2 linked regions of the Homo sapiens genome follow. The protein of the gene in region 2 interacts with the protein of the main gene of each other region in a pairwise test. Each region holds a gene or a part of one and is shown on either strand. Other genes may lie near its edges.

Region 1 (7,470 bases), on a different chromosome or scaffold from region 2:
TAATACTATCACATTGGCAATTAGGTTTCAACATACGAATTTTGGTGGGACACTTTCAGATCAGTGCCATTCTATATGGTGACTCTTCCTCAAACCAGGTGCTTGAGCAAAACCAATTTGCACAGAGCCACTCCTCCAGCTTCAACCCACTCAGCCAGTTATGGGCATATCACAGGAGAGATAAATCTTCGTCATTTTAAGCCATTGAGGCTTTGGGATTGTTTGTTACTACAATATTACTTGGCCTATCCTGTCAGTCATAGACATGTTTCCAGATCTTTCAGTTTTTCAGGAAATATTAAAACTCTAGGTTATGTGACTCAATGTTCTTTTTTTAAAACATTTACTGATAGTACGAAAACTTTTGGTCTTGCCTAAAAAATACAATGGAAATATTCTGAGGACTTTAACTGAATAGGTTTCACCCTTTTTATTATCATTATTATTATTGAGACAGAGTTTCGCTCTGTTGCCCAGGCTTGAGTGCAGTGGCGCGATCTCGGCTCACTGCAACCTCCACCTCCGGGGTTCAAGCGATTCTCCTGCCTCAGCCTCCCAAGTAGCTGGGACTACAGGCACCCACCACAATGCCCAGCTAATTTTTGTACTTTTAGTAGAGACGGGGTTTCGCCATGTTGGCCAGGTTGGTCTTGAACTCCTGACCTCAAGTAATCTGCCTGCCTCTGCCTCCCAAAGTGCTGGGATTACAGGCGTGAGCCACTGCACCCGCCCATCACCCTTTTTAAAAACTTATTTAGGCCAGGTGCGGTGGTTCACGCCTGTAATCCCAGCACTTTGAGAGGCCGAGGCAGGAGGATTGCTTATGAGAGCAACCTGATCAACATGCCAAGACCCCATCTCTACAAAAACATACAAAAAAATAGCTGGGTGTGGGGACATGCACCTGTGGTCCCAGCTACTCAGGAGGCTGAGGTCAGGGGATCCCTTGAGCCCAGGAGGTCACAGCTGCAGTGTGCCATGTTCACGCTACTGCACTCCAGCCTAGGTGACACAGCAAGACCCTGTCTCAAAAAATAAAAATTAAAAACTATTTAGAATTTTTATTTTTAAAAATGCTTTTCCTAGTCTTGTAATAAGAAAGCAACTAATTTTACATGTCAGTCTAGAAATAAATAAATTTATTTATTTATTTTTATTTTGAGACAGGGTCTTGCTCTGTCACACAGGCTGGAGTGTGGTGGCACGATCACGGCTCAGTGCAGCCTTGACCTCCTGGGCTCAAGTGATCTTCCCACCTCCGCCTCCCAAGTAGCTGGGACTACAGGTGCACAACACCATGTCCAACTAATTTTTAAATTTTTTGTAGAGACAAAATCTCGCTATATTGCCAGGCTGGACTTGAAGCAATTCTCCTGCCTGGGACTCCTAAAGTGTTGGGATTACAAGCATGAGCCACCATGCCCTATTTTTAATTGTGGTAAAACATACAGAACATAAAATTCCTCTTTCTAACCATTTTTAAGTGTATAATTCAGTGGCATTAAATATATTCACAATGTTGTACAAGCATACTCAGAGTTCTTAACTGTTGTCAACTAATCAAAAAATATTTTGAATACTTTAGGGACTGAATAAAATGTGTCTGTAGACCCAGTTCTGCCAGCATGTGGCTCTGCAGGACACCATGCTCCCTCTCCCAAGCCTGCAGTCCACGCTCCCTCAGCTTCCACTTCATAGCCCTTCTCTTCTCATGCATGCCTTGGCTGCTCTGAGGGCCCTTTCAGCTCAGAATCTTTGGTCCCAGATAAAGGGTCCGTTGGTGGATAAAGCAGTGAGGCAAGTGGTGTATACCTGTGTTATGATACAAAAAACAGACACTTGGTTTCCTGCGGTGGGGATATCGGGGAGCAGGCAGCAGCTACAAAACCTTTCTTTGCAAAGAATTAAACTCCTCAGCATCTGTCAAAGAAAGGGTCATCCCAGGAGGCTGGGTCTAGAAGTAGATTACACCAGGAAGAACCCACCATCTATACATGCCTACAGTGTGCACATTCCTATCCTTGCAACAACACTTTCAGCCAGAAAGCAGGGATTCTATATGCCCATTTCCCAGGCTCACTGGCTTAGTGATGGCTCATTGCCTGTAATCCCAGCACTTTGGGAGGCCAAAGTGGGCAGATCACGAGGTCAGGAATTCGAGACCAGCCTGGCCAACATGGTGAAACTCTGTCTCTACTAAAAATACTAAAAATACAAAAATTAGCCGGGCATGGTGGTGGGCGCCTATAATCCCAGCTACTTGGGAGGCTGAGGCAGGAGAGTTGCTTGAACCCAGGAGGCGGACGTTGCAGTGAGCCAAGATCACGTCACTGCACTCCAGCCTGGGCGACAGAGCAAGACTCCATCTCGGGGAAAAAAAAAAAAAAAGCTAAGAAAGAAAAGGGTTGATATGTACTATTAAGGAATAATCTTTTTTTTTTTTTTTTTTTAAATACAGGGTCATATTCTGTCACCCAGGCTGGAGTGCAGTGGTGTACTTATGGCTCAATGCAGCCTTGACCTCCTGAGCTCAAGTGATGCTCCCACCTCAGTCTCCTGAGTAGCTGGGACCACAGGCATATGCCACCACACCCGGCTAATTTTTGTATTTTTTGTAGAGCCAGGGTTTCACCATGTTTCTTAGTCTGGTCTCAAACTCCTGGGCTCAAGTGATCCTCCCACTTAGGCCTCTCAAAGCAATGCGATTACAGGTATGAGCCACTGCATCTGGCCCAGGAATAATCTCTAAGATATTTTATAAAGTGAGAAAAGCAGGATGCAAAACTGTGTATACTATGCCTTTTGTTTAAGAAGGAGAGGTCAGGGTAGGAGGAAGACCTACTTTTCACTGTACGCTACTTTGTGTTATTTGAAAATTAAACAGTAGGTACATTGGGATTCCACCTGCAAATCCTACACTTATCCAAGATAACTTCTAGTAACATTGGCTGTGGTTCATTTCATGCTTATTTTAATGTAAATACACGGAATGTATGTATATATTTATGCAGGAACTACAGTCTGGCATATTTTCTTCTCCTCTTTAATAGGTCTTTATTTGTGATCTTTAACAGATCTTTATAAAGCTGTCTTCTCTTTAAATTGCTGTCTCTAGGCTTAGCCATCCCCCCAACCCATACCCCTAATTCTCTAAAACATGCCGTGGGTGGTTCGCCCTGTGTACTGTTGCTTTGGGAAGGATTTCCTTCCCTCATGTCCACTCTCCGCCTTCCCTCATGGCAATCTAGCTATCCCTAGCCCCAGGGCACAGTTGTACCCAGGACTACCAAGATGCTAAGCCTTGCCCGTACAGGACCTAATGTGCCAGTACCCTCTTTCCCTCTCCTCCTCGCCCCCTTCCCTTCCATCTTTAGGGAATTCCTGGCAGGTTGGGTAGGGGATGAATGGTTAAGGGGTATTTTGTGAGCAGCGGAAGACCCAGTGCCAGGGAGGCCAACAGAGGGCCTAGCAATTAGAGAATACTTATATATATTTTTGGTGCCTACCATGTGCCAAGCAATGTATTAAGAAGTTTGCACACATTACATGTATTCCAACAATACTGCAAAGTAGGTTTCTTGGAGGGAACCATGTGTCGTTGTTTGCCTGAAACAGTCATGGTGTTTGCCTGTTGTCCTGGCAAAATTATTAATAGCATCTCCTTTCTCTAGCAAAAGGTTCAGATAAAAAATTGTATAGTGACCTTAACTGTCCCCATCTTATACGTGAGGATATTGAGGCTTAGAGAGGTAAGTTCATCTGCCCAGGGTCACATGGCTAATAAATGATAGGGCTGAGATTAAAACTCTAGTCAGTATGGCTCTGCTAGGGACTGAACTCTGACATGGACATGAATTGTGTCCCCGCAAATTCCTATGTTGATACCCTAACCCCCAATGCGACTGTATTTAGAGACAAAGCCTGTAACAGGGCGATAAAGGCTAACCGAGGTCCAGATTATTGCCTTCTCCCCAGGCCGCCTCTCTTCCACAACCGCCCCCACCCCACTGCAGTCAGGGCCCTTCCTCCTCTGTCACAACAGCTCTGCTAACCCTGCACTATCACTGCCTGCGTCCTTCGCAGCCTCCTGCTGCTGCTCTTCCACCGCTGCGTCCTCGTTGGCTGGCGCTTAATAAAAATTGACTCGGTGAATAAATGAGTGAAACTGTCCTTTTAGGGATGGATGGATGATGTCCTGTTCAAGGCGGTGCCCTTCTCTGGCATTCCCTAACACAAGCTTGACCCGAAGTAGGCGTTCTGAAAAAGGCCGACAGTCGATGGAGGCCAACGCAGCGCCCCTCTCACCTCCTCTCTCCGTCCAGGCCGGGTGACCACGGGCCCGGCCCGCAGAAAGGAGGCGGCGCGGCCGGCAGGGATCAGGACTGGAGGGGGCGGAGCCTCCCTCGCGGCCGGGCCCGGAGTGGGAGGGGCCTCCGGGACCAGGCCTCTAGTGCGCACTCTCGGAAGCGCAGCCGAACCCGCCCTCCGAATCCAGAGAGGCGCTGCTGACACCGCCGCCACACCGCCGCCACACCGCCGCTGCCTCAGTCATGCCGGTGAGTGGTTGCGCCGTCCCCGCCACGCAGACTTGCAGTCCCGGGTTGCTTCTCGGCTGCACAGCCGCTTGACCGGATGCTGATCTTGAAGGGCTCAGGCGGCGGCCGGAGCCGCTGTTGTCCCCTAGCTTACCCCACCCAGCCCCCAGCTTTTGCGACCCTTCAGAAAATGGGATCCGAAGGGAGTTTAATCTGGGAGCCAGGCTTCAAAACGTCGGAGCTGGAAGGCCTCCAGGGGCGACAAGCCCACACCTTCCCTGCGTACACAGAGAAACAGAACCAGAGAGGGGGCAGGGGATGGGGGAGTTGGTGGCCAGCGGGAACTGAGACGCCTAGTCCCTGAGCCTTCCTCCTGGCTGCCCTGCCCGCGGAGCTGGCCTGAAGGAGGGCGGTGGGGAGGCTCTGGACAAGGGAGTGGACCCGGTTATTTCCTCACGGACCGGGCAGGTTTTCAGAGGTTCATGCTTTTCTTAATTTCCCTGCCCACTCTGGCCTACTTTTCAGATCAACTCTGGGCGACACTGAATGGAGACACTTTCTCAGCCTGAACCCATGAGCCCCAGAGAGGTTCAGGAACCCCCCCGCACAGTCACCAGTTGCTCAGTGGCTGTGTCTGGGAAGTCAGTCTTAGCCTGCCTTTGCAGATCACTCAGTCTTATCACATATATTGTTGCTCGTGGCCTCGTTTTTTATATAAAGAATTGAGGCCTTTGGCAGATAAAAATATAAAAAGCCCAGTAACTTATTCCAGGTCGTGTTGAAGTTGGCAGAGCCAGGATTCAGCTCCTTATCCTTAGGCTCCCCATCTCTCCAGGCCTGACCACATGGGAGGTGCCAGGCAAAAGCAGTCACACCGGCTTGGGAAGATGCTCTGATCTCAGTTGCATCTTGGTTAGGGTCATGTGGTGTTTAGCATTTTCTTCAGGGTGCCTAATTCATGGCTCTGGGCCAGGTGGATACCCAGAGGTATCCCACAGTTGCCATGTGTCTTTGCATCCTGTCTTTAGGGAGCTGGCAGGTGAGCCTGAGGCCTCCTGGGCAGAGCCACTGACATCTCAGGTGTCATTTCCTGTGGGTCTTGCCAGGTGCCTTGAGACAAATCCTCCAACAACAAAGTATGGATAAGGAATCTGATAGAATCAGCCCTACCAGTTGGGCAAGTCAGCCTGTGGCAATGGTAGAAGACAGTATTAATTGCCCTGGGGCTTGGGGAGTGAAGGCCACCAGGATTTTTTGTGGGGGGTGGCAATGAGGAAAAGGCTAGCTTGATCATCACTGTATTCTGTATCTTCTGGGGATTTTGACAAAAAACCCTCTGGAGCAGATGATGGGAATGAGGAGGGCACTTGGCACCATGTACCACAAGATAACAGCTGAAGGAAAGAGGGTGTTAGTCAAGGGATTTCCTCAAAACTGGAAAGGGAAGAAAAAAATATATCTATATACACATACTGGAAGGGGAAGAGTGTGTTACCTGAGAGTTTTCTCAGACAAATGCCCGAGAGCACAGGGTTTGGAATCCCAGAAACCTCTGAAAATCTGTGCCCCAGCTTGCCAACTGGGTGACCTCAGGCAAGTTGCTTTATCTCACTGCCTTGATTTCCTCATCTGTAAGATAGGGACAAAAACTTTGACCTCACAGGACTGTTGTTAGTATTAACTGGAAAAATGCCAGTAAAATATGTCACACAGCCACTGATATATCTAGTCCCCAAGAAATGGTAGCTCCTGTGTAGACGTAGGACAGGTGGGCTAGAGCTATAGGCAGGTGAGGCCGGGCATGGTGGCTCACGCCTGTAATCCCAGCACTTTGGGAGGCCCAGGCGGGCAGATCACTTTAATGCAGGAGCTTGAGACCAACTTTGGCAACATGATGAAACCCTGGCTCTACAAAAAATACAAAAAATTAGCCAGACGTGGTGGCCCGTGCCTATAGTCCCAGCTACTTGGGAGGCTGAAGTGGGAGGATTGCTGGAGCCTGGGAGGTTGAGGCTGCAGTGAGCCGTGATCGTGCCACTGCATTCCAGCTTGGGTGACAGAGTGAAAGTGAAACCCTGTCTCAAAAGAAAAAAAAAAAAGGAAGGAAGGAGAGAGAAAGAAAAGAAAGAAAGAAAGAAGAGAAGAGAAGAGAAAACTATAGGCAGGCAGCTTTCAATCCCATTTTAACAAGATCTCAGTGGTTAAGCATTGAGGTTTTAGAGGCTGACTATGTTCAATTCAGGCCCTACTCAGCCGAATCACCGTGAGTGTGTGAACTAACCCCTAAATCTCAGTTTCCTCATCTGTCAAGAAGGGATAATAATAGGCCAGGTGCGGCGGGTAATGCCTGTAATCCCAGCACTTTGGGAGGCTAAGGCAGGCAGATCACAAAGTCAGGACTTTGAGACCAGCCTGGCCAACATGGTGAAACCCCGTCTCTACTAAATATACAAAAAAATTAGCCGGGCATGGTGGCGGACGCCTGTAGTCCCAGCTACTCGGGAGTCTGAGGCAGGAGAATCGCTTGAACCCAGGAGGCGGAGGTTGCAGTGAGCTGAGATCGTGCCACTGCACTGCAGCCTGGGTGACACTGTGAGACTCAGTCTCAAAAAAAAAAAAAAAAAAAAAGAATCATCCCACTTACTGACTTTAAAAACCTACTTTAAACCTACTGGCTTTTAAAATCTACCCATTTTATAAGTCTTTATAAAAGACCCCAGAGGCCATGAGGAACCAGAACTACCCAGTTATGCATCTGGTGGTAGAGCCAATCTTGAGATTCTCCTATAAAGAAGTGATTACTCTGTCCATGAAATAGATTTTCCATCACCCTCAAATTTATTTTTGCCCCTCAGAGGTGGAGGAGGAGAGCACTGAACTGTAATGTTTATACCCAGAAGCTGGTTTCTGGCTTCTGACCTTTATACTGTGGGGG
Region 2 (7,241 bases):
TACAACATACAAATTCTCAGAGATCATATAGTCCCTGAATGTTTACACGTACCTCAGATTAAGATTCCCAGCTATGGAATATCTTTACCCTTTAATGCCAAGCAGACAAATATTCGTGTTTGTGTTATAACAAGCTAAGACATAAATTCCACTAGCTTAACTCTTTATTGAAGGCAGATTACAAATGAAAATTAAAGCACAAAACTAGTGTATAGTTCAGGTTACTCTTCAGGATTGAAAGGCATATTTTTTTGTAGTCTGTTCTTATCTATATGAAACAATCATAAAAAAGATCAGCACTCCACCAAAAGAAATCATTTTAACAACATGAATTCAAAGAGAAACATCCCATATGGAAAATTTCTACATCCATCTTGACTAACAATTAATACCAAAGACGTCGCAAGGAAAAAAAGGCTCATAAAGAATCAAGTAAGCGAAATAATCAACATACCTATTAGGCAAAAACCTATTTAGTTAGGTAACCTATTATGCAAATACCTATTTAGGTAACCTATTACCTATACTATTTGATCTCTGACACGTGACCTTATTATCAGGGATTGAAGTAAGAAAAGAAGATGCAAAACAGGAAGAATAATGGCTTAGCTAAAAGATTATTATCGAACATCATTAAAAGTAGAATTAAAAAAGGATCTCATATACTTCTCTATTTAAATGTTAGTATCTATCTTTTCTCAACTACAAGTTGGGAGCAAGAATCACGTTTGTATATTTTCTCACAGCCTCCAAAACACATTTGACCGAACTTAAAAATCAATGAGATGCACTTTCAGAATTCCCTTTTGTGTCAGGACCTGTAACAGGTGTACCCTGTTGCACAGAAATCAGAGCTAATCTTTGTTTCAATTCGTAGAGCTTTGTGGTTGATGTTATTTTTCAACTTAAAACACTAATTATGCTTTAAAAAATATTTCCTTTCCTCACTTAGAGATGTTTAAGAATACTCACTTAAGTCAATTTCCTGTCCCAGAGGATATTTACATACAAGCATTTTCAGTGGTATGAAAACATAAGAACTTCAATTTTTCCAGGTATCGACAACCAACTTGCCTTGTGTCTTTCTTCTGAAACAGCGTCTCACTCTGTCGCCCAGGCTGGAGTGCAGTGGCGTGATCTCGTCTCACTGCAAACTCCGCCTCCCGGGTTCACGCCATTCTCCTGCCTCAGCCTCCCGAGTAGCTGGGACTACAGGCGCCCGCCACCTTGCCCGGCTAATTTTTTTGTATTTTTAGTAGAGACGGGCTTTCACCGTGTTAGCCAGGATGGTCTCGATCTCCTGACCTCGTGATCCGCCCGCCTCGGCCTCCCAAAGTGCTGGGATTACAAGCGTGAGCCACCACGCCCAGCCGCCTTGTGTCTTCTTAAGAGTCTAAAGGATTCTACACACCGTGGCATATACTCTCACCCTCACCCGCCTTTGTTTTTCTTTTAAATCAAAGGATTTCCCAATTTATCACAGCTGGAAATTTCAGCTATCACATACTAAAGTTAAATGTAAAGAGGCATTAGTGTGTGTTACATGAACTCTACTAGTTTCCTTTTAGAGTGAAAAAACTACAGAATACCTCAGTGAGAGTCTGAAACTTCTCACTTTCAAAACTAAAAAGCTGCCAGAAATTTGTTCAAAGAGTGAATCCATAATCATTAATACAAACGCTCCATTCTTTTCACCATGTGAACTACTACGGCAATAGCCTCCTCGTCGGGTTCCCTGCATTTGCCTCTTTAACTCTTCTTTTTTTCGCTTCCTCTACTCTTCAGCCAGGGATGACATTCCAATCGGAGCCATCTCTCCCTTTTGATTGAGATTCCTTGGAAGATATCCCATTGCTATTAGGAGAAAACCAAAACTCCTTTACAAAGCCTAAAAGGTTCGACACTCCCCCTCATCCCATCTCTCCAGGCTCAGTTCTTCATATTGGAAAAGCTCCCTTCCGCCACAGGGCTTTCTGACAAGTTAGTCTTTTTGTCTGGAATGTCTTTTCCTTTTCTCTTTCCTTAGTTAACTCCTGCTAGCCCTTCAGCTCTCAGCTCGATCCTCACTTGCTCAGAAACCCTTCCTTTCCCTCCCTAAAGAAGCCAAATTCCCTCATTCTCCTATCACCGTGGAACTCTCCTCTGGGGCACTGCCACTGCGGTAATTTCACATCGTTTTGTTCAGCATCTGTCCGTCTCACCAGGCGCAGGTCTACGAAGGCAGAGGCCACCCCAGTGGTCGGCGCTCAACACCCATGAAGAAATGAAAGCGCCTTCTAACGCGTTAGACGATGAAACCAGGGCACACAACCTTGCGTCTAAGAAGTGAACATCCCATGCAAAAGACTTTTCAAAGGGAAGGGCCTGGTTTGAGAATGGCCAGAGACATACAAATGTGAAGCGCATACTGAATCCTTCCATTCATACTCCGGGAGAAAGACGATGGATCTGAAAGAAGCCGCCTGATATAAACAGGGAATTTCAATCACTTCGAGGCCGATTTTCCACAGCGGCTGGGCAGAGAACTGCAAACGTATACAGTGCTAGCACAGAGTCCGGAGGGGAAGAAACGGTGAGGTTTCTGCTTCCTCCTCGCTCAGATGCTCCCTTCCGCCCCACTTGGCCAACCCTTCCTCTCCCTCCTCGCTTAAAGCTAGGGGATGGAAAATTCATACACAATCCGGTTCAGCATCCGGGTCCTCACTCTCCTTTCTTTCTTTCCTCTGCCCCGCCTCCCAGCCTCCCCCGCCCTTCTTCCCATCCGGGTTCCCCCCAGCCGCCGCCACTGCCGCTCACAGTTCAACGATGATATCACGACTTTCACGCCGCCGGTCCGGGAGTAACTGTACCCCGCATCAACTTCCTATTTTATAATGTGGACTTAGGCTCTTCCCGATGCCTACATGAATCCTTCCCACTATTTCACCACAGAACTCTCCGCCCTCCTCAGCCGCCAGCGACACCGCATTAGTTGGTGCAAGAAAATGCGCCATCCCGGTCACACTGCGCAGGCGTCGTTGCCGCCTCCCTACTGCTTTGTTGCCCCGCCCCTTTCACCTCCCCCCCGCCCCCGCACCGGTCCACGCAGGCGCAGGGCATTGCGGGCCTTGCAGTTCTCGCGGACGAGGATTTGCGCGTTGGCCCCAGAGTATGGACTTTATTTCCCAGAAAGCCTTGAGGCGTAACTTTCTGTTTCCATAGAACTGGTGGGAAAATGGCGTCGTTGTTTGTATCCAGGGACCAATAGGAACAGTGTATAGGCGGGTTCTAAAGAACTTTAACCAATCCAAGGTCGTCTAAGAGGCCATCCGGGAAAGAGGTAGGGGAGGGGGGGAAAAAAAATCTAGGGGAGGGGAGAAAGGGGGGGAACCTAGAGTCGGTGGGGGGGAAGCGATGTTTGCCCGTCAGTCGAGTCCGGAGTGAGGAGCTCGGTCGCCGAAGCGGAGGGAGACTCTTGAGCTTCATCTTGCCGCCGCCACGGCCACCGCCTGGACCTTTGCCCGGAGGGAGCTGCAGAGGGTCCATCGCCGCCGTCCTCTGGAGGGCAGCGCGATTGGGGGCCCGGACCTCCAGTCCGGGGGGGATTTTTCGTCGTCCCCCTCCCCCCAACCAGGGAGCCCGAGCGGCCGCCAAACAAAGGTACCAGTCGCCGCCGCGGGAGGAGGAGGAGCCGGAGCCTCTGCCTCAGCAGCCGCTGGACCCGCCGCCCTTCTTCCCCATCTCTCCCCCGGGCCTGCTGGTTTTGGGGGGGAGAAGGAGAGAGGGGACTCTGGACGTGCCAGGGTCAGATCTCGCCTCCGAGGAAGGTAGGGATATTTTCTGGGGCTTTCGTGGTCTCCTAAGGGGGTTCTTTTGGGAGTCGCTGGGCCCGGCCAAGGAGCAGAGGAAGATCGCGGTGGTGGTCCCTGCGGCGCCCGAATTCGGGGCCTCGGCCTCCCGGGAACCCCCACCCCCCGCAGCCGCTGTGTCCGAGCCGCCCCCTGGCTGGGCGGCCGCACACTCAGCGGTTTAGCGGCCGCGGTCGGGGGCCCGGGCAGGGTGGGGGCCGTTCCGCCTCCGGGGCCCTCGGCCCTCACGTTGTCCCCGCGGCGGGGCCAGATGTTGATCTCGCTCCCACTTGTCGGGTCTGAGCCCGGAACGGGACGTGGGCAGGGGCTCTGTGGCGGGCCGGTCCTGCCCGCGGCCCACAGGCCCTCCTGGCCCCTCGGTGGCCCCCGGCCGGCCTCTCGCTCGGACGCGGCGCGTGGGGGCGCGGATTCGCTCGGCCGGGCGCCGAGGCCCTAGGGGAGAGCGGCCGGCCCTGCGCCGGACGCCGGGCTTGTTGTGAGTTTCTTCTCTGACAGAAATGGCGTCATTGTCGTAGACGGGAAACTCCGTCGGGTCTCGACAATGGGGACGGGAAGCTGCCGAGCTGTGTAGGTGGTTGGGTTTGCGGGGATGGCGGGGCCGGAGGGAGCCCCGAGTCGGCGTGTGATGGTTCGGGGGCTGGCGCCTGGTTGCGGCTCTTTCTTCGGGGTTCGGACGTCGCTCGCTTCTTTCCCTCCGCCTCCGCCAGTGCAGAGGGGCTCCTGTGGTGTTGACTGGGTGTCTTTTGTTTCCCCTCCAGGTGCAGCTGAACCTGGTGTTTTAGAGGATACCTTGGTCCCAGAGTCATCATGAAGGTAAGATTGCCTGCGGAAAACGAATCTCTGGGGTTATCGAATTCAGGAAGTAGGAGGTTTCGACGAGGTCGTCGTGTGGGGCTTCCGAGTTTTGCAGAGGAAGGTGTGTTTGGTGACTTGGTGACCGAGCCCTTCCCCAGAGAGACCGGGGTCAGCTGGCGGGCTTTGCTGTGGAGTTGGAGGCAGTTATAGGATGTCTCAACTGAAGATGATTCTCCCATATTGAACATCTCTTTTTGTAGGGAATGAGAGGAATAACGGCATGAATTAAAGTGTTTTAAAAGGTAAAATAAAAAGCAAGTCAGGTAATCTGACCCTAGAAACTGAACTGTATTGTGGTTCTATCAGTTACACTGATGAAAGAGAATCTTATTTATTGTGTGAACAGTACTGTAAAATTTTAGCAGAAAACTCTTTGACTCGTCACAAAAATAATTTAATTGAAAGATTTAAAAAGAGAATTTTTGTGATTTTTTACACAATTCAGAGATACCAGTTGTTTCTTGTATTTCCAGTGACTTGGGGTTATATGGTTTATTTTTCTTTATTGATCTGGTTGGTCTGTAAATAAGTCAGAGGCTCTGTTGCATTATGATGTGTGGAAAACTGATGGCCAGGTTCCTCTTAGATGTCAATATGTTAACTGAGTGGAGAATAGGGTCAAAAAATTTGCTTAATTGTTGGAAGAAATGATAACGATAAAAATACAGGTATTTTTGTTACTTGAGAGAATATGTATATGAATGCTGTCTTTTTTTTTTTTAAACACATGCTAGAATAAAACCTTAGATTTTTGAAAAGTCTGGATTCAACTGGTGGAACTTAGACACTAGCTTGTATTTTTTCATCCATTACAAATTCAGAAGTGCTTGAAAAGGGTAGAGTGTTCACAAGTGTAGAAATGCAACAGATAGCATGTTAGAATATCAACGTTGTCTACTTTTGACAGTTCCTTTGAACTATTTAAAAAAATATTTCACTTGTCCTCAGAATCAAGACTGCTTTGACAATTTTGCATCCAAATTAAAATTTGTAATACTTGTGGTTGTAGAAGGTAAAAGCTGTGGCTACTTAAATCTTGGTCTACTATACAGAGTAATTAAGTTTAGTCTAATTTTTTTAAGGTTTTCTCTTTGAGTTTGGGATGCTGTAAACTACCTGAAACAGTTTATTCCTATCTCATTTCATGAAGCATAGACATGTTTCAGGAATGAATCCCTTTTGTTAGTCACAAATCCTAGCTATAACTCTCATCACCTGTGTAAAACAGTGGTGAAAGTGCATTTATTAGGTAACTCGTATATGTACCTTGATGTTGGGTGAGAATTTCTTAAGAAAAGTTTTGGTTTGAGTAAGAAATAATAAGTTCAGAAGCCGAATAAATAAAAGGTTTAGTTTGGAGTAAATGTAATGTGTCACATTTCCCAGTGTTGTAGTGCTTGTCACTTCTTAGGTGCTCTATAAATGTTTGGTTAAAAGAAATGTAGTTAAGTTGAAAGTCTGAGATTAAAATGTTTTTTTTCTTCCTTTCGTTTCCTTTTTTTTTTTAAGTAGTCTGTTTAAAAAAATGAAAGTATGTTGGAAACTTTAGCCTTAAAAGTTTCTTGGTAATACTAGCCAAATGCAAATTTTTTGGTATCTTTTTAGAAATACTAATTTTAAGTGCTCAGCATTACATTCTACTGCATTTTTTAAAAAGGTGCTTTTAACGTTAAAAGGAAAAAGTTACTAAAATAAATTTCTAACTTCATACAAGTACTTCCTGTTATTATAAGTATAGCAAATCTCAGAGAATTTGCTAGTAATTATTAGTACTAAAAACTTAGCTTATTTCTTACAACTTTATTTCTTATGTGATAAAAGATGAGAAGCTTCTTGTAATTTGTATTTTGCTTTAGCAAAAATTGCAATTCAGAATCTATTTAATGTTGAGTGTATTAGGCCTAAATTTTGTTTCTTTTTCTGTGTGTTCCCAATTTCTTTCGTTCTTTTTTATTTTTCTTTTTGATATAGAGTCTCACTATTTCACCCTGGCTGGCACGATCTGTAACTGCTGCCTCCTGGGCTCAAATAATCCTCCCACCTCAGCCTCCTGAGTAGCTGGGACTACAGGCACACCTGGCTAATTTTTGTAGTTTTTGTAGAGATGAGGTTTTGCCGTGTTGCCCAGGCTGGTGTCGAACTTCTGGGCTCAGGTGACTCTCCCGCCTTAGCCTCCCAAAGTGCTGGGATTACAGGCGAGAGTCACCGTGCCTGGTGTAATTTCTGTATTACGATGATCATTGAGCTACAGAAGGTTTTATGCCATTTATTGGATCTTACCAAACATATTTGTACTTGGGAGCAAGCTTTTAAGTTTGAATTGTCTGTTGTATTAACGACAACAAATCTTTAAATTTTATTAAGTGACAGTTTATTGAGGTGATTGAAAGTTAGATTATGTAGTAATACTTTTTAGGTGTTGTTTTAAAGTTGAAGTGTTGTATGTTTTAGCAGTTTTCCCATGTACTACCTTTAAGAATTTATGTAAACAAATACATTCCCATTACTGTCTAATATATGCTATGTTACTTTTTTCAC

Evidence for each region.
Region 1: the proteins of GGPS1 (region 2) and ATOX1 interact in binary tests that used the Homo sapiens proteins (3 or more experiments, as listed by UniProt).

What each region holds. Positions count from the first base shown.
Region 1 is NC_000005.10:151,755,632-151,763,101, reverse strand, and holds the start of ATOX1 (copper transport protein ATOX1), read left to right. Parts: upstream 1-4,470; 5' UTR 4,471-4,550; coding exon 4,551-4,556; intron 4,557-4,741; exon of another isoform or gene 4,742-4,813; intron 4,814-6,030; exon of another isoform or gene 6,031-6,164; intron 6,165-7,470. UniProt on the Homo sapiens protein: Binds and deliver cytosolic copper to the copper ATPase proteins. May be important in cellular antioxidant defense.
Region 2 is NC_000001.11:235,324,334-235,331,574, reverse strand, and holds the start of GGPS1 (geranylgeranyl pyrophosphate synthase), read right to left. Parts: upstream 3,006-7,241; 5' UTR 2,797-3,005; intron 2,568-2,796; exon of another isoform or gene 1,075-2,567; intron 1-1,074. Other genes in the region: ARID4B (AT-rich interactive domain-containing protein 4B), read left to right, coding at 4,656-4,661. UniProt on the Homo sapiens protein: Catalyzes the trans-addition of the three molecules of IPP onto DMAPP to form geranylgeranyl pyrophosphate, an important precursor of carotenoids and geranylated proteins.